Homo sapiens: one gene and its partners. The protein of the gene in region 4 purifies or fractionates together with the protein of the main gene of each other region. This does not show direct contact. Each region holds a gene or a part of one and is shown on either strand. Other genes may lie near its edges.

Evidence for each region.
Region 1: the proteins of GRK6 (region 4) and PFKL purify together in Homo sapiens (affinity purification with mass spectrometry; one large-scale study listed by BioGRID and IntAct). This does not show direct contact.
Region 2: the proteins of GRK6 (region 4) and PTGES3 purify together in Homo sapiens (affinity purification with mass spectrometry; one large-scale study listed by BioGRID and IntAct). This does not show direct contact.
Region 3: the proteins of GRK6 (region 4) and MMS19 purify together in Homo sapiens (affinity purification with mass spectrometry; 2 studies listed by BioGRID and IntAct, with this or other methods). This does not show direct contact.
Region 5: the proteins of GRK6 (region 4) and GLUD1 purify together in Homo sapiens (affinity purification with mass spectrometry; one large-scale study listed by BioGRID and IntAct). This does not show direct contact.
Region 6: the proteins of GRK6 (region 4) and DNAJC7 purify together in Homo sapiens (affinity purification with mass spectrometry; one large-scale study listed by BioGRID and IntAct). This does not show direct contact.
Region 7: the proteins of GRK6 (region 4) and PFKP purify together in Homo sapiens (affinity purification with mass spectrometry; one large-scale study listed by BioGRID and IntAct). This does not show direct contact.

The regions. Positions count from the first base shown.
Region 1 is NC_000021.9:44,306,553-44,310,052, reverse strand, and holds part of PFKL (ATP-dependent 6-phosphofructokinase, liver type), read right to left. Parts: intron 3,373-3,500; coding exon 3,299-3,372; intron 2,794-3,298; coding exon of another isoform or gene 2,725-2,793; intron 1-2,724. UniProt on the Homo sapiens protein: Catalyzes the phosphorylation of D-fructose 6-phosphate to fructose 1,6-bisphosphate by ATP, the first committing step of glycolysis.
Region 2 is NC_000012.12:56,664,285-56,667,784, forward strand, and holds part of PTGES3 (prostaglandin E synthase 3), read right to left. Parts: intron 1,983-3,500; coding exon 1,920-1,982; coding exon of another isoform or gene 1,872-1,919; exon of another isoform or gene 523-1,871; intron 517-522; coding exon 492-516; intron 215-491; coding exon 195-214; 3' UTR 1-194. UniProt on the Homo sapiens protein: Cytosolic prostaglandin synthase that catalyzes the oxidoreduction of prostaglandin endoperoxide H2 (PGH2) to prostaglandin E2 (PGE2).
Region 3 is NC_000010.11:97,488,423-97,491,922, reverse strand, and holds part of MMS19 (MMS19 nucleotide excision repair protein homolog), read left to right. Parts: intron 1-3,500. UniProt on the Homo sapiens protein: Key component of the cytosolic iron-sulfur protein assembly (CIA) complex, a multiprotein complex that mediates the incorporation of iron-sulfur cluster into apoproteins specifically involved in DNA metabolism and genomic integrity.
Region 4 is NC_000005.10:177,433,176-177,436,675, forward strand, and holds part of GRK6 (G protein-coupled receptor kinase 6), read left to right. Parts: coding exon 1-64; intron 65-171; coding exon 172-235; intron 236-360; coding exon 361-501; intron 502-738; coding exon 739-929; intron 930-1,726; coding exon 1,727-1,764; intron 1,765-1,856; coding exon 1,857-1,946; intron 1,947-2,897; coding exon 2,898-3,106; intron 3,107-3,217; coding exon 3,218-3,355; intron 3,356-3,500.
Region 5 is NC_000010.11:87,060,344-87,063,843, reverse strand, and holds part of GLUD1 (glutamate dehydrogenase 1, mitochondrial isoform a precursor), read left to right. Parts: intron 1-1,008; coding exon 1,009-1,188; intron 1,189-2,791; coding exon 2,792-2,929; intron 2,930-3,018; coding exon 3,019-3,156; intron 3,157-3,500. UniProt on the Homo sapiens protein: Mitochondrial glutamate dehydrogenase that catalyzes the conversion of L-glutamate into alpha-ketoglutarate. Plays a key role in glutamine anaplerosis by producing alpha-ketoglutarate, an important intermediate in the tricarboxylic acid cycle.
Region 6 is NC_000017.11:41,979,440-41,982,939, reverse strand, and holds part of DNAJC7 (dnaJ homolog subfamily C member 7), read left to right. Parts: intron 1-538; coding exon 539-685; intron 686-932; coding exon 933-1,085; intron 1,086-3,500. UniProt on the Homo sapiens protein: Acts as a co-chaperone regulating the molecular chaperones HSP70 and HSP90 in folding of steroid receptors, such as the glucocorticoid receptor and the progesterone receptor.
Region 7 is NC_000010.11:3,105,548-3,109,047, forward strand, and holds part of PFKP (ATP-dependent 6-phosphofructokinase, platelet type), read left to right. Parts: intron 1-1,666; coding exon 1,667-1,762; intron 1,763-3,153; coding exon 3,154-3,246; intron 3,247-3,500. UniProt on the Homo sapiens protein: Catalyzes the phosphorylation of D-fructose 6-phosphate to fructose 1,6-bisphosphate by ATP, the first committing step of glycolysis.

The DNA of each region.
Region 1 (3,500 bases), on a different chromosome or scaffold from region 4:
GCGGATGCCAGCTCAGCTGTGGGCTTCTGCTCCTCCCTCCGCCTTCTCCCCAACCAGGTGTCAGGGCCCTGGGGGCCAGGAGGGCAAGTGCCTCAAGCAGGCAGGGGGTCAAGGGATAGTGCGCGCTGCGGGGCGCATGAACATCCCCACTCTGGCCATGGCGGGCTTCTAGCCTGACAGCCTCCCTTCCCCACCAGCTGGGCTGGGGGACAGGTGCCCCTGCCCCATCTCAGGGGCTGATCTGAGGGACCACAGAGCTACTTCCTCCGGCTCAGGCCAGGCCAGCCTGGCCCCCTCTGGTTGTACCAGCCCTGAGCTAGGAACAAGGAAAACAGGAAAATGATCCCAAACCCACAGCCCCACCTGAGCAGGAGGCCACCAAACACAGGTCTGTCTGCAAAACTCAGGATCCAATACAGAGCCCAGGCGCCAGCCAGGCCCCTGCCCCACTGGGCGGAGGGGCAGGCAGGTATGGCCAGCCCAGCAGTCCCCAGAGACCCCACAAGGCCAGTGGCTCAGTTCTGCTGGAATCAGTCTCACAGACACAACCTCCTCCTACCCTTGGAATCTTCTAGAAGCTGTTTGCCCCCCTCTACCCACTCTGTTTCCGTCTCTGTCCTCCTAGGCCCAGCTCACCTTCCCCTCCTTCCCCTCTAGCCCCGCCCCCTCCTCTCACCCCTGCAGGCCTGGACCCAGGCTCAGGGCCCTCCCTGCTATGCTGTGGGCTCTGCCTGGGGGGATAAGAGTAGCCTGTTCTGAGCCCTCCTTTGTGTCAGAACTGAGAAGGGTTTTCACCTCCAAGGCCACCCTCCCTTTCTGCCCTAACAATAGCCCCAAGGAGAAGGGATCGGTCTCCCTGCTGAAGGAAGCCAGCGCTGGGGGCTCAGAAACCCAAAATGCAGTCTGATGTGAACTGACGCAGCCGCAGGTCTCCCTGACCTCCCCCTTCTGCCTCTCGACCCTCTGCCTCCTCCAAGCTCAGGATGCAGCTGCTCCCTGAAGCCCCCGAATCTGCCTAAAGCCCATAGCTGCTGGAGAAAGGAACAGTGACGGCCAGTCCCCTCCCTGAGTTTCCATGCACTGAGGTCATCGTAGGAAGAAAGACCTGTGTCTGCCAACACACTTGGGCAGGTGGTCACCAGGGCTAACAGATGCTGTCCAAGCCCATTGAATCCCCTAAAAACCATTCATGGCCGTGCACAGTGGCTCGCGCCTGTAATCCCAGCACTTTGGGAAGCAGAGGCGGGTGGATCACCAGAGGCCAGGAGTTCGAGACCAGGCTGGCCAACATGGTGAAACCCCGTCTCTACTAAAAATACAAAAAACAGCTGGGCGTGGTGGTGGGTGCCTGTAATCCCAGCTACTCAGGAGGCTGAGGCAGGAAAATTGCTTGAACCTGGGAGGCAGAGGTTGCAGCGAGCCAAGATTGTGCCACTGCGCTCCAGCCTGGGCAACAGAATGAGACTCTGTCTCAAAAAAAAAAAAAAAAAAAATTCCTACCCCCCTAGAATCATCCAGGCTGCCCATGCCCCTTTCCCTGGGAGGAGGGCAGGTCAGCATCTTCGCCCTACCTCTCCATGCCTATTCACAATGAATGCCAGCACCTCTGCCCTATTAATCCGCTTTTCGCAAGTGGATTCTTCCAAGAACCTTCATGGGACGGAGGGGAAGTCTTCCCTGGGCCGCTATATCAGAATGTCTCATCTCAAAATCTGCCTCTTAGATGTGGATGTTTCTGAGCTAAAGCCCACTAGGCAGCAGATTCAGGGAAGCTCTCAGCCTTGCCTCCCTTTGAGAGGAAAGCAGCACACAGCATCCCAAGACTAAGGCTCCTCCTGTTACCGCCTGGACAGGATGTAAATGCCCCTCACAGCCCTCAGGACCCAGAGACAGCCCCAGGACCCGCGCCCACCCACTTCATTCTTTTTCCCATAAACTCACCCTCCTGCATTCCCCCACCTCCGAGGGCCTCACGCTGCGTCCCTGTACCCCTCGGCTTCTCCATGTGCACTGGTCTCTGCTGGGCTCTGCAGAAGCCAGGACTCTAGGCACGGCAAAGTGCCTCTTCTCCCCTTTTCCAGGACACGCCCTGCACCGATGAACCTGTTTTCTGTCTTTTGCCACAGGAGTCTTTCCCAACCACAAATGTGTGGGGGTTCCGGAAAACCCTAATTTCTCCCCTTTGCCACTTAGAAGAAGAAACTGAAGGTCGAGCAGGTGGCAGGAGGGGTTTGTACGGACACAGCCCAGCCTGCCTAGAGAGGCCCCCACACCCAGCTCCCCAGGGCTCTGAGACCTGCTTCCTAATCCAATACTGGCAGGGCCCCAGCCTGGCCACAGGGAGAGGACGGGCCAGCACAGACTGCCCACTCACTCATTCATTCACACAGTCCTGCAGAGGGAGGGCTGGACAGGCTGCTGTTCCCTGGGGCCAAGATGGGGGAACTGAGACCCAGGGCGGTGAGTGGTCAGCAGCGAGCAGTGAGCAGTGAGGGGGGTGGGGCTGAGTGCCTGGGGCTGCAGAGCTGGGGTTGCTACATTTTATATAAACAGCTACATATTACATAAAAAGTGGCAACAAAATAACAAAAGACCTTGTCTTGTGGAATGTGGAAAACCACCTGACAAGGCAAGAATGCAGCCTGTGAGTGCGTGGTGTGGCCCAAGTGTGTGAATGCGCCTGTGTGTGCACATGTGTGAGCGCAAGTGTGGGTGTGTAAATACCCAGGACGGAGGGCGAGCCCCAAATCTCCCACGGGGACTGGGGCTGAGGCAGTAGGGCATCCGCTGCTCCTGCGGGGACACAATGAACATAGACACAGCAGAGCTGCTGCCAGCGGCTGCCCCCCGGGTCTGGGTGGTGAGGCAGGAGGCTGGGGAGGACAAGGGCAGAGGCGGTGAGGTCCCTGGCCCCCACTCACAGAGGCCTCGGGGCGGGACAAGGGCCAGGCTGGGGGACACCAGGCAGGGGTGTGGTGGGTGGGGCCTGGCCCGTCAGCGATCACTGTAGGCAGGGCCTCGACTCCTTGTCCACCCAGCTCCTTCCCTGCCCCCAGGCCCGTGCTCTGCAGCCTCTGAGCCTCCAGCCGGGCTGAGTCCCAAGGCAGTAGGTCTTCTTTCTGCAGATGCCTTTGGCCTGGCCCCAAGCTCCCCCTCACACTCCCCAAGACCACATACCCATCAGCTCCTCCAGGCCAGGACCACCCCGTCTCCCAGTGTGACCCACACAGAACACACCTCGGCATGCGCCTCAGGAGGTCCCCACTCCCTGCACACACACAGCCCACCTTGGCCTTACCTCGTAGATGAGGAAGACTTTGGCACCCACATAAATGCCCATGCGCGTCACAGCCCGGACAGCAGCGTTCATGCCTGTGGAGGTCAGGGCAAACCTGTCAGTCCCACGCTGAGAAGCAAGGCCCTGGACACCCTCCCCATCTCAGAGGACAGGGGGTAGGGGAGGCCTGGACACCCTGTCCATCTCAGAGGGCGGGTGGTGG
Region 2 (3,500 bases), on a different chromosome or scaffold from region 4:
AAATTGCCCCATACAATGGTACATATCAACCCTTAGTGAAGCCTTTTAAAAAACAAACAGGTTGAAAAATGGGTTAAAGTAGGCAAATACAGCATATCTGCCTTTAGAGCTATCAACTCAGGAATTCTCTCAATTATGAAATCTTGCAGAGAAGTTATTTTTCTTTCTCAAAATCCAGGTGATGACAATATTCCTTACTCCAGATCTGGCATTTCTGAAAGAATTTTTAAAAATATTAGTATATAGTACAAGTGAATAATCTACCAATTTTACTGTCTTAAAGGAAAAGCAACCAAAAATCGAAATACATAGTTGCCCAATGAATTAATAGGTTGTCTTGCTATCAAGTTATTCACATTTCTGCTTTGGTTATTTATTCAAGGTCATAAAGAAAAAATTACTTTACTTCCAAAGAAGTTAACATCTCTATTTTGAGTTTGTTTTTTGATGCAAAGTATCACTGTATAAACATACTTTTTATATACACTTACTTTCATCATCACTGTCTTGTGAATCCTGAAAGAGGGAAAATAAAGTTACCGAGCTGATCAAATATTCGTTTGCTAACTGAACAGTTTACCTAAAAAAGTTCAAGTGCTATATTTTTGACTAAAGTAGCACAGGTAGGTAGTCATATCAAGCCTAGAAATTTAGTCATTGGACTTGACTAGGTTTACCTAAGGTGAATGGATGTACAGCAGAGGATTTATCTACCTATAAAAAATGATGTGTGCCTTTTGGTGACAATTTAGCCCACCCGTTGAATCCATTCCTAAATTAACCTATCTCGGCATTCAAAGAGAAAACATGGATCAATATGAAGAAAAATGGACTGATAGAAGACAGTGAACTCTAATCCTAGCTGTTGAGTGAATATTAAGTGTTTTTCTAAATAGCATTAAATAACTTTCTGGGAGATGTTAACAGGATGCTGGGGTTGGAAAGATGTTGAGAAAAGTAGTTTAGTGTATCTTCCTCTTACAGATTTCCAATGTCCATCTTTTTTTTTTTTTTTTTTTTGGGTGGGGGGAGATGGAGTCTTGCTCTGTCACCCAGGCTACAGTGCAGTGGCGAGATCCGGCTCACTGCAACCTCTGCCTCCCGGGTTCAAGCGATTCTCCTGCCTCAGCCTCCCAAGTAGCTGGGATTACAGGCACCCGCCACCATGCCCGGCTAATTTTTGTATTTTTAGTAGAGATGGGGTTTCGCCATCTTGGCCAGGCTGGCCTGAAACTCTTGACCGCATGATCCACCCATCTCCGCCTCCCAATGTCCATCTGTTTTATCGGTCTCTGACCAATCCTGACATAAAACCTATTTAACTTACTTTCTTAGTCAAAATCATACCTATAAACTGACTCTCTTCTTTCTTTTTGAGATGGAGCCTCGCTCTGCTGCCCACACTGGAGTGCAATGGTGTGATCTTGGCTCACTGCAACCTCCGCCTCCCAGGTTCAAGCGATTCTCCCACCTCAGCTCACCAGTAGCTGGGATTACAGGCACCTGCCATCATGTCTGGCTAAGTTTTTAAGACAGGGTTTCACCATGTTGGCCAGGCTGGTCTCGAACTCCTGACCTCACGTACTCTGCCCACCTGGCCTGCTGGGATAACAGACATGAGCCACCTCGCCCGGCCTAAACTGACTGTTATAATTGAGTACGGTATTAATATATAATGTCTCTATACAATGATTCTTTGGAAATCTAATCCATTTAGGAATGGTCTACGGTACAACCAGTTCCCTAATAGATACCCCCATTCGTCAAAAATGGGCACATTTTAAAAATTGCTTTTCCCTTTTCTTTTTTTTTAGAAAATAAGAAGTAATTGTGAATCTATATAAAACCATTTGTAAATATGTTGTTTCTTACTATTTAATAGTATGAAAGTAAACAGAAAAAAGAATTTTTAGACTTACATCATCTGCTCCATCTACTTCTGGTAAATCTACATCCTCATCACCACCCATGTTGTTCATCATCTATTTGAAGTGTAAAAATTAGTTTTAAAAATGATGTTAAGTTAGGCCCTAATTATTAATGCTGTATGCTTCAGAATAAACCTTAAGTCTGCCACAGATATCAAAAAATGCAAAATGCAAATATAAGCATCTTTCCCTTCTGGAAAAGGAAGATTATAGGTAATTATACAAAATCCTAAAAACCCATATGGAAATTAAAACTAAATTTTCCCTAAAGAAAAGCAAAGCTATTCATGCAACAGGTTTGACAAACATTAAAAATTCTACTTGAGTAGTGGTTACCTCTGGTGGTTAAGGAAAAGAATGGGATTCATTTGTAGTTGCACAGCTATCTATCTTAAGTTAGGTGGAACATGTATTAAGGTATTCTTTTTTTTTTGAGACAGAGTCTAGCTTTGTCGTCCAAGCTGGAGTATGGTGGCGTGATCTCAGCTCACTGCAACCTCCGCCTCTGGGTTCACGCAATTCTCATGCCTCGGCCTCCAGGGTAGCTGGGATTACAGGCGCGTACCACCACACCCAACTAATTTTTTGTATTTTGGTACACACGGGGTTTCACCATGTTGCCCAGGCTGGTCTCGAATTCCTGGGCTGTAGTGATCCACCCACCTTGGCCTCCCAAAGTGCTGGGATTACAGGCGTGAACCACCATGCCAAGCCTTTTTTATTTTGAGATGGAGTCTTGCTCTGTTGCCCAGGTTGGAGTGCAGCAGCACAATCTCGGCTCACTGCAACTTCCGCTTCCCGGGTTCAAGGGAGTCTCCTGCCTCAGCTTCCTGAGTAGCTGGGATTACAGGCAGATGCCACCACGCCCAGTTAGTTTTTGTATCTTTGGTAGAGACAGGGTTTTACCATATTGGCCAGGCTGGTCTTGAACTCCTGGCCTCAAGTGATCCCCTTGCCTCGGCCTCCCAAAGTGCTGGGATTACAGGAGCAAGCCACTGTGCCAGGCCTGGTATTCTCATCATGGTTTTAGATATTGTGAAGAACCAAGAAATGATTTAAACTTAAACTATTATCAGATGATGAGAAACTTATTTTCTCAAGTTTAAACCATTTTTGTAATGTTTAAATTTTAGAAAAATAAAATCACATATGCATGGAAAAAAAATCAAACTTCAAAAATACATGATTACCCAGATTTTAGAATGGGAAAGGACCTTAAAAAGATAGTCAAACATACAATGGAATGTGTTCAGCCTAAAAGTATCATTCAGCCTTAAAGAAAAAAATCTGCCTTATGTGACAAAACACAATGAAGAATCTGAAGCACGTCATGCTATGTGAAATAAGCCAGTCACAGGACAAATACTGCATGATTCCACTTATATGAGATACCTAAGATTATGTAAGATACCTAAGATAGTCAGACACACAAAAATAGAGAGTAGAATGGTAGATGCCAGGAGCTGGGGGGAAGGAAAATGCAGAGTTGCTACTGTTAAATAGGTATCAAATTCCAATTACACAAAATGCATAGTTCCAGAGACCTACTACTGTACAGCATTATGCCTATAG
Region 3 (3,500 bases), on a different chromosome or scaffold from region 4:
GTGATCCACCCACCTCGGCCTCCCAGAGTACTAGGATTACTGGCATGAGCCACCGTGCCCGGCCTTATAGTCACTTTTATGTTTGTGCTGCATTAATTCAAGAATTTTGTGAAAGCTATATGAAGACTAAAGGGCTTTGCCAGGAGAGTTCACCCACATACTGGGATTCAAGGAACCACATGCAAATGGCTATTTATTTGTAATTATAAAGCAGCCATTTTCATATTAATGTATGCAGAATGCCAAAGAAGCATTTTTCTTTTTTTTTCTTTGAGACGGAGTCTCGCTCTATCGCCCAGGCGTGATTTCGGCTCACTGCAACCTCTGCCTCCCAGGTTCAAGCAATTCTTCTGCCTCAGTCTCCTGAGTAGCTGGGACTACAGGCGCATGCCACTACACCCAGCTAATTTTTTAATTTTTGGTAGAGATGGGGTTTCACCATATTGGCCAGACTGGTCTCGATCTCCTGACCTCATGATCCACCCACCTCGTCCTCCCAGAGTGCTGGGATTATAGGCGTGAGCCACCACGCCCGGCCTTTACCTCAATTTTTTTAAAAAAATGAAAAAATAGAAGGTACTGAATGGGCCCTATTTGGCACTTCTTGTCTTAGAGCCTTCGTTCCAAATATAGACCCTAGCCTGACATCCACAGAGGGTTTTGATGGTATTGCTGAAGAAAAATGATTCAGTTCATTGATATCCTTTGCTATTAACAGTTGTTAGTCCCCTATGGCTTCATCTGTACAATTATTAACTCCTTCTGTGCCCATTATTGAAATTAGTTTTTAGATGGGTTGTTTCAGCAGAGTTTTCTGTACTATAGCCAGGCTGTTCCAAGAAAGTACCCTTTTCTACCTTCCCAAATGTTGCAATGCCCTTTTGTGGTTCGTAACCCAGAAATAGGTGTTTCAGTTCATGTAAGTGTTGCCATTAAGGAATTGGGTATAGAACCCAACTTGGTTTGTTTGGCCTGTTAGTCTGGCTGCTACCCCTTCCCCCACCCTTACAGTCTGCTCATTTTTTCCCTTGGCTCTTTCTCAGGAGCTGGGGCAGCAGCTGGGCCTTCCACATCCTGGCACAAGTGGGCTAAGAGTGCCTGATGTCTAAATTGGTGCCAGTCACGAGCTATAAGTCCTAACTAGAGCTCTCATTTTCCTCAGTCTCATTGGACGACTTCTTACTGTGGTGCTAGAGTGAGCCTCTGCCCAGGTCAGCTCATAACTGTTGCTGTGAGACCACAGACTTTAGGAGAACTGGAAGTTTAGGATTTCTTCAGACCTCTCTTTCACTTTTTCCAGCATTGGCACAAGCTGACTAGTTAAGGTTCTGCATTTAGAGGTAGGTGGATTAGGAACCCAGAACAGGCTGCTGGAAGTAATTCTCTGGTTGTCACACCTTATTTAGCTATAAGTGTTCAATGTGAACCAAAGCCTTATGAAGATTGTTAGCCTTTTACCCTGTTTCTCCCTTGAAAATACATTCTAAGATGCTTCTCTTCAATATATGTGAGTTACTATTGTGCTGCTAAAATTGCATTTAAAGGCCAGGTGCAGTGGCTCACATCTGTAGTCCCAGCACTTTGAGAGGTCAAGGTGGGTGGATCACTTGAGCCCAGGAATTTGAGACCAGCCTGGGCAACATGGCAAAACCCTGTCCCTACAAAAAAATACAAAAATTAGGCGGGCATGGTGGTGCATGCCTGTAGTCCCAGCTACTCGGGAGGCTGAGGTGAGAGGATCACTTGAGCCTGGGAAGTCGAGGCTGCAGTGAGCCATGATTGTACTACTGCACAGAGCTAGACCCTGCCTCAAAAAAAAAATCCAAATAATATAGGTAGATACTCCTCCCTCCAGGAGGTGGAGTTTAATCTTCCCCTCCCCACTGAATGTGAGCTGGACTTAATGAATACCTTACAAATAAAAGAGTACCAGAAAGAGAAAAGTAGTAACTATAGTGCAGAGACCTGGCAGACATACCTTAACCAAGTGATAAACATTAACATTGCCAGTGATGGAGAAGCCATGTTACTATCTTATATCCCTGATATGATATGTTGAGAAGGGTACTTCACCTCTGTGATATTCTTTTTTAAAACCCATAACCCCAGTCTAAACATGAGGGAAACATCAAACAAATGCAAATTGGGGAACCTTCTATAAAGTACTTCTTTAAAACTATCAAGGTCATGAAAAACAAGGAAAGACTAAGAAACTTTCACAGACCAGGAGAGACTAAGAATTCAAGATGACTAACTGCAATTTGGTATTCTTAATTGGATCCTGGAACAGAAATTTGGCATTAGTGGAGAAACTATTGAAATCTGAATAAAGCCTAGAGTTTAGTTAATAGTGTGTATCAGTGCTAACCTAATCTCTTAGTTTTGACACTCGTACATAGTTTCACAGATGTGTGCCATGTAAGACGTTAACATTAAGAGAAACCGAGTGATGGCTATACGGGAACTCCGCACTGTCATTGCAACTTTGCTATAAATGTAAAATTATTCCAAAATGAAATATTTCTTTTAAAACAATAGTCTACCTCTCAACCCTTAACTATGCATTTTCCCTCCCTGAAGGCAACAAATGTTATTAGTTCCTTTTATATCTTCCAGAGATGTAAATAAATGCAAATAAAAACAATCCCCCCTCCCTTTAAAAACAATGCTACGCACATATTATATACACTGTTTATACACACTGTTATTTTAGATCTTGACTCATTATCAGTATATATGTAGCTTCAGTCTTTCTTCATTTGTCTTTTTAAAAGTAGCTACAGGCCCGGTGTGTTGGCTCATGTCTGTAATCTCAGCACTTTGGGAGGCCAAGGCAGGCGGATCACTTGAGCTCAGGAGTTCGAGACCAGCCATAGGCAACATGGCAAAAGCCCCATCTCTACTAAAAATACAATCCAGCCTGGGCAACAGAGCAGGATGCTGTCTCAAAAAATAAAAATAAAAAAGATTAAAAAATAAATAAAAGTAGCTACAGAGAATTCCATTGTATGGATGTACTATAATTCATTTAACTGGTTTCTTATTGATGGGCATGTGTTGTTTGCAGTCATTTACTGTTACGAATAATGCTGTATTGAATAACGTTATACATGCATTATTTTGCACTTTCACAGTACAGTTAGCCCTCCATATCTGTGTGTTCTGCATCCTTGATTCAAGCAACTGCAGGTCAAAAGTATTTGGGGGAAAAAATAGCAACTGTACCAAACATGTATAGACTTTTTTCCTGTCATTATTCACTAAACAATACAATGTAACAACTATTTGCGTAGCACTTAGATTGTATTAAGTATTATGAGTAATCTAGAGATGATTTAAAGTATACAGGAGAGTGTCCATAGTTTGTATGCAAATACTCTTACCATTTTATATAAGGGTCTTGAGCATCCACAGATTTTAGTATCCTCAGGAGGTCCTGGAGCCAGTCTCTCATGTATATACCAAAAGATGACTAGATAGCTAGAGGATAAACTTCTAGC
Region 4 (3,500 bases):
CTTTTGCCGACTACCTCGACAGCATCTACTTCAACCGTTTCCTGCAGTGGAAGTGGCTGGAAAGGTGAGCTCCCTGAAGGCTGGGCCGGGACAGGCCAGGTCGCCGGGGTTCTTCATAGGCCTTGGGCTCTCCTGCTCAGCCAGCGTTTGCTTCCCCACCCCTTGCCACAGGCAGCCAGTGACCAAAAACACCTTCAGGCAATACCGAGTCCTGGGCAAAGGTGGCTTTGGGGAGGTGAGTGGCCAGGCCAGAGCCCCTGGGAGAGTGAATAGGGTGGGTGTGTTGGGACCTGGACCACCCCCTGGATGCCCAGCAATGGCACAGCTGGCCCCCATTCGCCCCTGTCTGTCTGGCCACAGGTGTGCGCCTGCCAGGTGCGGGCCACAGGTAAGATGTATGCCTGCAAGAAGCTAGAGAAAAAGCGGATCAAGAAGCGGAAAGGGGAGGCCATGGCGCTGAACGAGAAGCAGATCCTGGAGAAAGTGAACAGTAGGTTTGTAGTAAGTACAGAAGGAGACTCTCCCTTCCCCTTGGCCACACTGGCGCACCGACCGTCCCCACCCCCCAGGCCCCACCCTCCCATGTGGGATGCCAGGAAGGGCGGGTTTGGGGTGTTGACACCAGGCTTGGGGAGCAGGCTGGGCCCAAGGAGTGGCACCGAGAAGGCTTTTTTGGGCAGCCCTGCCGCCAAGCGCCCCGCAGCTCCTGCCTGAGGGCTCGGGTCCCCTCGGCCACAGGTGAGCTTGGCCTACGCCTATGAGACCAAGGACGCGCTGTGCCTGGTGCTGACACTGATGAACGGGGGCGACCTCAAGTTCCACATCTACCACATGGGCCAGGCTGGCTTCCCCGAAGCGCGGGCCGTCTTCTACGCCGCCGAGATCTGCTGTGGCCTGGAGGACCTGCACCGGGAGCGCATCGTGTACAGGTGGGGAGGGCTCGGCCACCCCAGGGGCTTAGTCCTTCCCTGCCAGCGACTGCAGCTGGGCCTGGACGGGGGTGGCCAAGGCTGCCGATCAGGCCAGACTACAGAAGGACATTGGTTTGGGGGCTGTGGCACCGGCTTAACTCACACGCCAGGCCAACCTGAGTAGCCCAGACCTAGGCTTTGGGCTCTGCTGGACCCACGGGGTATCCTGACTTTGTCACCCCTCCACCCCCCACCGTGTGACCTTGGGCCAGGAGCTCCCTGCTCCCAACACTGCTTCCTTTTCTAGGAAGCAGAGACTATAATTCCTACTTCCCAGGTTGTTAGAAGTAGGCCCAACTTCCTACTGGAGGGGCCCAGTGAGCTAAGTACAGAGTGCCTGGCACATGGGGCTGGGTAAGAGAGAACCCTGGCTCTGATTGTTGCCGACTTCCTGTGAACCTCACAACAGCCTAGTCAGGGGACGGATGAGTAGTCCCATTTGATAGAGAGGAAAGGCAGAGTCAGTCACCAAGGGGTGGAGACTCCTTGGTCTCCACTGGGGAGGCCCCTCCGGGGTGGAGCTGTCTTCCACTCATCTAGAGAGTCCTGGGAGTCCTGGCTCTAGATCCTTCCTCTGCTCCCTTGAGTCCGGGCTGTTGCCAGGGAGAGCAGGGCTGTCTGTCGCCCTGGCAGCAAATGAGTCTCGCACCTTGCTCCACACCTGGCCCCCGGAGGCGAGTGAGCTGGGGGGGCTGGCCCCTTCTGACTCCCTGGCAAACTGAGCAGCATCTGACCCTGCTCTTCTCTCTGCACAGGGACCTGAAGCCCGAGAACATCTTGCTGGATGACCACGGTGTGTAAGGGTGCCTGGGGTGGGTCAGGGTGGGGTGAGATGCAGAGGCCTGGCCTGTTAACGGGTCCACCTGTTTCTCCACCCACACTCAGGCCACATCCGCATCTCTGACCTGGGACTAGCTGTGCATGTGCCCGAGGGCCAGACCATCAAAGGGCGTGTGGGCACCGTGGGTTACATGGGTGAGTCTTCTCTGCCCGGCCCACTAGCCTCCTGGGTTCCCTCACTATCCACCCACCCAGCCACACCCACTTCTGTCTGGGAGTCTTCTCTCAAAAGGGGCCTCAGTAGAAAGGGCCCATGCCGATGCTCCTCTTCTAGAGGTTAGGAGACCAAGACTCAGCCGGGGCCGCACACAGTTGTGAAGCCATGTCGTTCATTTGCTGAATACTTATTAAACCCTGCTATGGCTGAGCCTGCAGGTGGCTACCGGGGGATGGAGGAGAGAGACCCAAACCTGTTTCCGTGGCCCCAGTCCCTGCCCTCCCTGTGCCCATCTGTGAGGGAGGCCAGTGGAGGGGCCAACATGAGGCCCCACATTCCACCTGGAGACCGAGAGACGCAGGAGGCAGAGTCCTGGCTCTGCAGGCTCCGCCTCTTGCCGGTTGCGTGGCCTTGAACCAGACACTCCGCTGCTCCCGGCCTCACTCTGCTCCACTGGAAAACACTCATCATACCTGCCTCCCAGGGCTGCCTGGAAGATGAAAAGGGAGAGTTCAGGGAAAACTCCCCACAGGGCTGCCCTGGCAGGTAGGAGGTATTCAGAAAATAGGAGTTTCCTTCTTCTCGCTGATATTAAATCCAGAAGTTGCAAAATGGTAGCCACATGGGCCCAATTTGGCCTACATTTGTGTTTAAGTCAAACTGTTTTTAGTAAGCCAGATGGTTTCACATACAAAATACAGATTTCTGACTTCTTGTGTAAAATCTGAAGACCCGGGGACCCTGGGCGCGGCCTCCTGCAGGGCCGTATTCACCCCGCTTGATGGGGCCTGTGCTCTCCTACTGGCCAAGGTCCCCCCTGGCCAGCGGGTGTGAGTGTATCCCAGACCTAACGTGCACTGGCGTTCCTGGGGCCTGAGGGTCCACTGCCCGCCTCCTGCCCAGCCCTAACTCCCATGCCGCCCGCCCAGCTCCGGAGGTGGTGAAGAATGAACGGTACACGTTCAGCCCTGACTGGTGGGCGCTCGGCTGCCTCCTGTACGAGATGATCGCAGGCCAGTCGCCCTTCCAGCAGAGGAAGAAGAAGATCAAGCGGGAGGAGGTGGAGCGGCTGGTGAAGGAGGTCCCCGAGGAGTATTCCGAGCGCTTTTCCCCGCAGGCCCGCTCACTTTGCTCACAGGTACGGCAGCTCACAGAAGCCTGGCCAGCCAGGGCTGGGGTGGATGCACCTTTCCCTCCCTCCCACCCACTCACCTGCCTGGCCTGCCTGGCCGACTCACCCCTGCCACAGCTCCTCTGCAAGGACCCTGCCGAACGCCTGGGGTGTCGTGGGGGCAGTGCCCGCGAGGTGAAGGAGCACCCCCTCTTTAAGAAGCTGAACTTCAAGCGGCTGGGAGCTGGCATGCTGGAGCCGCCGTTCAAGCCTGACGTGAGTGCAGCCCACTCCTGCTGAGGGCGGGGCCCAGCCAGGGCTGGGGCTCAGGGGCTCTTGTAGTATCAGCCAGGATGCTTCCAGTGCAAGTGGCAGAAAAAACAATCTAGTGGCTTAGCCACAGAAATAAAGATAATTCACA
Region 5 (3,500 bases), on a different chromosome or scaffold from region 4:
AACCCCCATCTCCACTTTGCAGAGCTAACCACTGCTACCAAAGATACTCTGCTCACACAGAAGCACAGGACTCTTACCCACACATACCTTTTTAAAAATACTTCATTAAATACTTTCGTTACTCTACTCTTAGATGAACTTGAATGTCATGTTATATTAAGTATCAAGTTATATTAAAAACTTCCTTTTTCAAAAGTGGCAGAATACAACATTGAGTCTTCCCATCCAAGACAATTGTAAAGCCTCTTCCTGTCTCAGGCTCTGTTTTGGTGACATGCTCAAGTCTTATAGTAGATTTTAAGACACTCATGAATGGGATGTGTATGTACCTTGATTTAGTAGTGCTTAAATACTTGTTGAAGGAATGATAGCTTTAGGCTGAGCTAGCTCTACTTTTGTGATGTTATTTGTACTTACTTGATGTTCAATCCCTACACTCTTGTTTTTTCTGTCAGAAAATATGGTCTACTTTGCCGGGCGTGGTGGCTCACGCTTGTAATTCTAGCACTTTGGGAGGCCAAGGCAGGGAGATCACTTGAGGTCAGGAGTTTGAGACCAGCCTGACCAACATGGAGAAACCCCATCTCTACTAAAAACACAAAATTAGCCGGGCGTGGTGGCACGTGCCTGGAATACCAGCTACTCAGGAGGCTGAGGCAGGAGAATCGCTTGAACCTGGGAGGTGGAGGTTGCGATGAGCCAAGATCTCACCATTGCACTCCAGCCTGAGCAACAAGAGTGAAACTCCGTCTCAAAAACAAACAAACAAACAAACAAAAAAAAAAACAGAAAATATAGTATATTTTATTGTATTTTCTAGGAACAGAAAGCTGAAAAAGTGAGTCTTGTCTCTATTGGTAAAAGTATACCTTAAATACATTCATACACACACTCCTAATTAGCATATTTTTGATTAAATGAGAATGTGCTTTGACTTTAATTCATTATGTTCCTTCAACAGAGAAATTGGACTTGACATTTCATTCTTTCAATTACCCCCTCTTACAGGATATTAATGCACACGCCTGTGTTACTGGTAAACCCATCAGCCAAGGGGGAATCCATGGACGCATCTCTGCTACTGGCCGTGGTGTCTTCCATGGGATTGAAAATTTCATCAATGAAGCTTCTTACATGAGCATTTTAGGAATGACACCAGGGTTTGGAGATAAAACATTTGTTGTTCAGGTAAAAACAAAAACAAAAAAAGTTTCCTTAATAACTGATAGACATTAAGTAAAGTTTTCAATGTTTTTAGAATTGTAATTTTAAAATTAAGTTATCTCAAATCTCTTAAATTTTAGAGTGGTGGTTTTCAGAGTAATAGATATTTTGTTTTTTGAACCTTGGTATGATTCATGTAACTAGAACTGATTTAAGTATCTCTCAAGTACATGTGAAACTGTTACCAACTTCAACCAAACTATCACCAAATTCAACCAAAATATTGGTTAGTATTCAAACTTGAAATTATAGCTAGAAGGGCAAGTCTCTTAACATAATTTTCTAAGTTTTGTAAGTATATAGAAAGGTTTACACACTGACCCAAATTTGTTTCATGTGTTAACATGTATTTTACTTAGGAGAATCTTAATTAAGTTGAAATTACTTGAAAATAGAAGTGGTGGCTGGACACAGTGGCTCATGCCTGTATTCCCAGCACTTTGGGAGGCCAAGACGGGTGGATCACTTGAGGCCAGGAGTTCGAGACCAGCCTGGCCAACATGGTGAAACCCTGTCTCTACTAAAAGTAGAAAAATTAAGCCGGGCGTGGTGGCTCACGCCTGTAATCCCATCACTTTGGGAGGCCAAGGTGGGCAGATCACGAGGTCAAGAGATCAAGACCATCCTGGCCAACATGGTGAAACCCGGTCTCCGCTAAAAATAGGAAAATTAGCAGGGTGTGGTGGTACACGCCTGTAGTCCCAGCTACTCTGGAGGCTGACGCAGGAGAATCACTTGAACCCGGGAGGTGGAGCTTGCAGTGAGCCGAGATTGCGCCACTGCACTCCAGCCTGGGTGACAGAGCCAGACTCTGTCTCAAAAAAAAAGAAAGAAAAATTAGCTGGGCATGATGGCGGCACCTGTAATCCCAACTACTCAGGAGACTAAGGCAGGAGACTCACTTGAACCCGGGAGGCAGAGGCTGCAGTGAGCCAAGATTGTGCCATTGCACTCCAGCCTGTGTGAGAGAATGAGACTCGGTCTCAAAAAAAAAAAAAAATTGTATTTCTCCAAATTAGTGACATCCCTTTTCACAACATAGGACATCTGATCATCAAGGACTGAGGACCTGGTGGTGTACTTAACACCACTGCCATTTATTGATTGATTGAGATGGAGTCTCACCCTATTGCCCAGGCTGGAGTGCAGTCTCGGCTCACTGCAACCTCCACCTCCCAGGTTCAAGTGATTCTCCTACCTCATTCTCCCAAGTAGCTGGGATTACAGGCACGGACCCCATGCCTAATTTTTGTATTTTTAGTAGAGACGGGGTTTCACCATGTTGGCCATGGCTGATCTCGAACTCCTGACCTCAAGTGATCCACCTGCCTCAGCCTCCCAAAGTGCTGGAATTACAAGCGTGAGCCACCATGCCCGCTCATCACATTCTTAAACAGAGAATTTTATTGTTGAAGAGAAACCAGTTAGTACATTGTTTCTTTTGGCAAAAGAATTTTGAGAATTGCTTCTAAATAAACAGAGTATGGATTTACATTGGTCAAAATATGACTCTTGCTGTCTATACCAGGACTTTAATTTTTGTGTTATGGGTAATTGTTCTTCACAGGGATTTGGTAATGTGGGCCTACACTCTATGAGATATTTACATCGTTTTGGTGCTAAATGTATTGCTGTTGGTGAGTCTGATGGGAGTATATGGAATCCAGATGGTATTGACCCAAAGGAACTGGAAGACTTCAAATTGGTATTAATACATTTTTATAGCATAGACACTAAATATAAATATTTAAAACTCTGGTGCAGCTATTAATTGTGATTTTCAATCAATGGCAGCAACATGGGTCCATTCTGGGCTTCCCCAAGGCAAAGCCCTATGAAGGAAGCATCTTGGAGGCCGACTGTGACATACTGATCCCAGCTGCCAGTGAGAAGCAGTTGACCAAATCCAACGCACCCAGAGTCAAAGCCAAGGTGACAACATTATAGAAACCAGAACCAACATTATCAATGTGAATGACGTTAGGGGGGTCATAGAAGAGTCTGATTGAGTTTTCTCTTTCTTTTTAGCAGCTTTATTGGCACATACTGCACATACCATACAGTTCCCCCATTTAAGGTACATAATTTAATGGCTTTTAGCTACCGGCACAGAGTTGTGCAACCATTACCAAAACAAACGCATCTGCCTGACACTCCTGTAAAAAAAAAAAACAAGCAAACAAAAAAAAAACCTAGATAAATAGAAAAGTGAAAGGTAGTTTTATACACTTGGCAGAGAAAAATAACCTCTATTTAACTTTAACTGAAACTGTGCT
Region 6 (3,500 bases), on a different chromosome or scaffold from region 4:
CACCCAGGCTGGAGTGCAATGGCATGATCATAGCTCACTACAACCTTTGCCTCCCAGGTTCAAACAATTATCCTGCCTCAGCCTCCCGAATAACTGGGATTACAGGCACATGGTACCACGCCTGGCTAATTTTTTGTATTTTTAGTAGGGATGGGGTTTCACCATGTTGGACAGGCTAGTCCCGAACTCCTGACCTCGGGTGATCCATTCTGTCAAGCTTGATTCCTCCCATCTTGGGCCAAGGGCCCCTCCTTTCTTTCGTGCTACCGAAATAGAAGCAAACCTGTGTTTAGAGTTCCCTTTTCTGTCTCATTTACCTGCATCTCTCATTGATGCAGGCCTCCCAAAGTGCTGCGATTACAGGCATGAGTCACCGTGCCTGGCCGAGTAGATTTTTTTTCTAATCTCCAGAAGAAAGCACCGTAAAAGTCCCTGGCATGGTTAACAAGGCCTCTAACTCCCAGGCAGCTGGGCTGAGACCTGGTGAGGAAAAAACCAGAGTCAGATTTGTCCACTGATGCCAGATGTCTTCCTGTAGAACACAAACAGCTCCTAAAAAATGCGCAGCTGGAACTGAAGAAGAGTAAGAGGAAAGATTACTACAAGATTCTAGGAGTGGACAAGAATGCCTCTGAGGACGAGATCAAGAAAGCTTATCGGAAACGGGCCTTGATGCACCATCCAGGTAGAGTAGGTGCGGGGAGTGGGCTCAGTGGGAAGAACCCGCAGGGCAGGCCAACTGCCACACTCAGTCCAGAGGGGACCCCTTGGAGAGGTCCTTCAGCTGAGAATAAGGTGTTGCAGACTTGTGGACCCTCCAAATTTTGGGAAGTGCCAAATTCCAAAATTAGACAGAAAGTAGTTTTTCTCTTAAACTTTGTTTTCTTGAAACTTTGATTTCCACTGAGTTGTTCTTTTACTCCCCACTTTAGATCGGCATAGTGGAGCCAGTGCTGAGGTTCAGAAGGAGGAGGAGAAGAAGTTCAAGGAAGTTGGAGAGGCCTTTACTATCCTCTCTGATCCCAAGAAAAAGACTCGCTATGACAGTGGACAGGACCTAGATGAGGAGGGCATGAATATGGGTGGTGAGTTGGCTGGGGCAGCCTGGGATGAATTTGACAGCTGTAGAATGTTAGAATTTTTTCCAAAGATGCTCCAGAGGGAGAGTCTATTTGGGCCAAATCTGATCCCTGGTCCAAACAGTAATAGACATGGAGTCAAACAAATGCAGTCAAATGTGGCAGGTTCACAGTGTGCAGTGAGCTCTGAGGAGGCGAGCACTAGCAAGGGAAGGCTTGGAAGTGCAGAAAAGCATGGCCCCATGGGTCATGCCTGTAATCCCAGCACTTTGGGAGGCCAAGGCAAGCAGATCACTTGAGGTCAGGAGTTTGAGACCAGCCTGGCCAACATGGTGAAACCCTGTCTCTACTAAAAATACAAAAATTAGGCTGGGCGCGGTGGCTCATGCCTGTAATCTCACCACTTTGTGAGGTCAAAGCAGGTTGATCACCAGGTCAGGAGTTTGAGACCAGCCTGGCCAACATGGTGAAACCTCGTCTCTACTAAAATACAGAAATTAGCCAGGTGTGGTGGTGGGCGCCTGTAATCCCAGCTACTCGGGAGGCCGAGGCATGAGAATCGCTTGCACCCAGGAGGCGGAGGTTGCAGTGAGCCGAGATTGTCCCACTGTACTCCATCCTGGGCGACAGAGCAAGACTTTGTCTCAATTAAAAAAAATAATAAGAAGAAAGAAAAAAGAAAAATTAGCCAGGTGTGGTGGTGCACACCTGTAATCCCAGCTACTTGAACCCGGGAGGTGGAGGTTGCAGTGAGCCAAGATGGCGCTACTGCACTCCAGCCTGGGCAACAGAGTGAGACTCCATCCCTCCCCACTAAAAAAGCAAAGCATGGCCTCTTTGGGGATCTGCAGGGGGCTTGGTCTAGGGAAGATAAAGGGATAGGGTGCTAGAGGCAGGTGGTGGTGGAAGGCCGGCAAGTAGCTGGATCAGAGCTCACAGGCCATAAGGGCTGTATGTGGTAAGGAATATGAGCATTTTCCTATTATCTGGAAGTTCTTTTTTACCCACTGCAAAGTGTATGCTGACATTTATGTATGTCATACATTCCTATAAACACTCACAGATTTTAATTTCCCAAAAAGATTTAGCATGATATAAAGCACACCTATTGTCAATATTGTTGCTCACTGTGGGCTGTCAGAGATAAGAGGCCCTGACCTGTGAGCTGGGCGCGGTGGCTTACGCCTGTAATCCCAGCACTTTGGGAAGCCAAGGCGGGCAGATCACCTGAGCTCAGGAGTTCAAGACCACCCTGGGCAACATACAAAATACCAAAAAAATTGTACTCTCTACTAAAATACAAAAAAATTAGCTGAGCATGGTGGTGCATGCCTGTGGTCCAAGCTACTCAGGAGACTGAGGCACCAAAAACTCTTGAGCCCAGGAGGCAGAGGTTGCAGTGAGCTGAGATTGCGCCACTGTACTCCAGCTTGGGTTACAGAGTGCGACTCCATCTCAAAAATTAATTAATTAATTCAGTCAGTCTTCACTCTAAGTTGTCTGCCAAAAAATTTGCTGGGCATGGTGGCTCACGCCTGTAATCCCATCACTTTGGGAGAACAAGGTGGGCGGACCACAAGGTCAAGAGATTGAGACCATCCTGCCCAACATGGTGAAACCCCGTCTCTATGAAAAATACAAAAATTAGCTAGCCATGGTGGCGCACGCCTGTAGTCCCAGCTACTTGGGAGGCTGAGGCAGGAGAATCGCTTGAACTCGGGAGGCGGAGGTTGCAATGAGCTGAGATCGCACCACTGCACTCCAGCCTGGCGACAGAGCAAGACTTGTCTCAAAAAAAAAAAAAAAAAGAGGACCTGACCTGTGAATGGTGAACAGACCTACCATCTCTTCCACTAAGAAAATCTATTGGGATTTTGTTTTTTGTTTTGTTTTGTTTTTTGAGACGGAGTCTTGCTGTGTCACCCAGGCTGGAGTGCAGTGGCACCATCTCGACTCACTGCAACCTCCGCCTCCAGGGTTCAAGTGATTCTTCTGCCTCAGCCTCCCGAGTAGCTGGGACTACAGGTGTGCGCCACCACGCCCAGCTAATTTTTGTATTTTAAGTAGAGACGGGGTTTTACCATATTGGCCAGGCTGATCTGGAACTCCTGACTTCGTGATCCACCCACCTCGGCCTCCCAAAGGGCTGGAATTACAGGCGTGAGCCACCGCGCCCGGCCTTTTTTTTTTTTTTTTTTTTTTTAAGACTGAGCCCAGTCTGGGTGCAGTAGTGCCATCTTGGCTCACTGCAACCTCTGCCTCCAGGGTTCAAGCAATTCTCCTGCCTCAGCCTCCTGAGCAGCTGGGATTACAGGCATCCACCCCCATGCCTAGCTAATTTTTATATTTTTAGTAGAGACAGGGTTTCACCATGTTGGCCGGGCTGGTCTTGAACTCCTGACCGCAAGTGATCTACTGGCC
Region 7 (3,500 bases), on a different chromosome or scaffold from region 4:
TTGCTTTAATCAGGATCCCAAGTGGGACGGCATTTTAAGCAAGTGAAAAAATTTCTCTGTCTCCAGTTTGTCACACTTTGTATTTCACTCTATGGACTGTGAGCGTGGGGCATGTTTTCCTCTATGAAGGCTGAGACTCAAGGCAGAAGAGGTTTCATTTAAGACCTGAGGCTGAGACAGAGTGAGCCTGGTTAGAATGCCCCATGCGTGCCTAACTCCGGCAGGCAGACTTCAGGCACTGTTGGCTCCAGGCTCCACACAGCCACCCCTATCATTTTCTATGGGTGGGTCTTTAATTTGGGGCTTAATAGAAAGCGAGTCCATTGAGGATGAGTTAATCCACATCATGGAGTGGTCGCTATGTTCCTTTCATGACCTCTTTAGGCTCACGTGACTGCCGTGAGCATAGGAAGGACGACGGGGACAGCAGCCACGGTGGCCCAGCAGTGTGAGGCCTTTCGGGTGCAGCTGCAGCTGCCAGAAACCCACTGTCTGGGCCCTGTGTCCGCTCACGCCGTTTTCTCTCTCCCGACTCTCTGCTGCTGGAGCCTGTGTGCAATACAACCTCATCCCAGTGGCCAGGCTTCGGGGCCTCCCCTGGGAGGGCCGGGGAGGAGTGGTTCACAGGGAGATGGCAGGAAACTCTGGAGGGAGGCAGAAAGCATGGCGTGCACGGGGCGCCTGTGGGGCGTCCACCTGTGTGTCCTTCCCCATGGGAGGCAGAAAGCATGGCGTGCACGGGGCGCCTGTGGGGCGTCCACCTGTGTGTCCTTCCCCATGGGAGGCAGAAAGCATGGCGTGCACGGGGCGCCTGTGGGGCGTCCACCTGTGTGTCCTTCCCCATGGGAGGCAGAAAGCATGGCGTGCACGGGGCGCCTGTGGGGCGTCCACCTGTGTGTCCTTCCCCATGGGAACCCCTGTCAATCACACCAGCACCCTCCACCTGGGGCTGACTGGGGGCCACATTTCTATCTGCGGTGGTGATGTGAGCTCCCAGTCCCAAAGAGCTCTCTTCCAGTGAGCCACAGCCGCCCTGCTCCTTCACCCCTGCCCCTCTCCTCACCCCTGCCACTGCCCCTTCACCCCTGCCCCTCTCCTCACCCCTGCCCCTCTCCTCACCCCTGCCCCTGTCCTCACCCCTACCCCTGTCCTCACCCCTGCCCCTCTCCTCACCCCTGCCCCTGCCCCTTCACCCCTGCCCCTCTCCTCGCCCCTGCCCCTTCACCCCTGCCCCTCTCCTCGCCCCTGCCCCTTCACCCCTGCCCCTCTCCTCGCCCCTGCCCCTTCACCCCTGCCCCTCTCCTCGCCCCTGCCCTGCCCCTTCACCCCTGCCCCCTCCTCGCCCCTGCCCCTTCGCCCCTGCCCCTCTCCTCTCCCCTGCACTGCCCCTTCACCCCTGCCCCTCTCCTCACCCTGCCCCTGCCCCTTCACCCCTGCCCCTCTCCTCGCCCCTGCCCCTCCTCTCACCCCTGTCCCTCCCTGCTGTCACCCAGCACACCTTTCACCACCTTCTGATGTCATTGGGAAGCAGCTCTTAGGAAGTTAGGCAAAGATTCCTGCCCAGAAAGAGGCCAGTTCAGTTTGAGACAGACTTCTGTGGTTTTGTTGCATTTGTTGCTAAGAACAGGATTAGGAATTTGAGAGCTTTAATTTTCTGTCTCCACAGAACCGTGCCCGGAAAAAAAGGCTGAATATTATTATTGTGGCTGAAGGAGCAATTGATACCCAAAATAAACCCATCACCTCTGAGAAAATCAAAGAGGTGAGTGTGTGTAGCTGCTCACTTTCTCTCGGTTTCTGCCTGGAAGCAGGGGAGGCTAGCGTCATGGGCAGGCTTGGTTTAGAACATTGAATTATTAACTTTTTATCCTTGATATTTAAAACATTTTCATAATGACTCAGAAGTTGGACGGCAGGGGAAACACGCAGCTCCCGCTCCTGGGAGCCCATTCCGCTTACGTCACCTCTTGCCGAGCCCGTAGAGGTTCCGGGACTCCCCAGCAGACAGAGGGGGTCAGCTCGAGTGGCCACGCGTGTTCTTTGGATTAGAATGTTCCGGCTCTTAAACATGAGCTGCTCTGAGAATGAGGACTGACCACTTGGCAGCCGACCCGGGCTTCTGTTTGCCACAGTGGGAAAAGGCGGCGTCTTGCTATTCCCTGTGCCCTCCCATAACCCAGAGCATCAGCTGAGCACATTCTTACAAAGCCACTGTGTCCTCGTGGCCCTGCCTGGGAACAGGCTTTGGCAGGCTTTGGCAGGCTTCGTGCCCTGGGACTTGCTCAGGCCAGTGCCTGCCTGTCTGGAGAGGACTCTGATACCATGGGCTGTGCCCCTGCTGTAGACGGGGCTGCAGGCTGCCGGGGCTGGGGATGGGCTGTGGCTCCAGCAGCCACGGGGCAGAAGACGTCCCCACCTGGCTTTGCAAGTCGGCTTCTTTATTGTGCTTTGTTATGGTCAGTTAAGGAGCAAAGCATATCTCTGGATATGAAAACAGTGATGGACACCTGGGAAAGACATCTGCCAATATTTATAAGTGGTCATCCATAAAGTCCAGGCAAAGATTTTATTTCCCGCTTAACTGTAATTAAATTATAGGACAATGGACCGAGAAGGAACCAAGGAATTTACGTAGCCCAGCCCCACTGTCCTTACAGAGGAATAAGCTGAGTTCCAGAGACAGTCAGTGGCCTCTCCAGATCACCGGGCCGGTGTGCCCATGGGCTGGGGCGAGGGGAACGCCTTGATTGGGCTGGCTTGTGCTGTTCAAATCACAGCTGAACAAATTAAAGCTGGTTCAAGGAAGATGTTTACATTTTTTGTAAAATATAAGTAATAGTTTAAATGCAAGCTACTGAAACGTTACTTTTTTATTTTTCTTTTTTAAAGCAACGAACATATTACTTGTATTCATTTTCTAGGTGCGAGCCAAGATCTTGTCTGGTAACAACAGTATTATTTTTAAAACCAATTTTCAGCTGCCTGTTATATACACTAAACGTTCTGCTAGGAAACAAAATTTAGAAATAACTTTTCCCATTTAGATCTGAAGAAAGAGCGAAAAACCTTTTCCAGTGCCCAGTACCTCCTTCCAGATCTGGGCTGCTGTGTCCGCATCACAGTTCCGCATCCTAACGAGATGTTTCCTTGCAGCTTGTCGTCACGCAGCTGGGCTATGACACACGTGTGACCATCCTCGGGCACGTGCAGAGAGGAGGGACCCCTTCGGCATTCGACAGGATCTTGGTGAGTTGGGAAGGGTTGGGCATCTTCACAAGGTCTCTAGGAGGAAGCGTTTCTGGAGAGGCACAGGCACCAGCCGGCCACAGAGGCTGGCAAGGTGCTCCCCGAGAGATGCCCGCGGCCCGGCCCTCATCTTAACGATCCTTGAGACCTTTGGTGTAGACCAGTCTCTAGGCCTGCAGCCATTCAGATGCGGGGAGAGCTCCCTAATGTGGGAAGGCAGTGCTTGGTGTTGGCACGACGTGGACCCCAGAGGG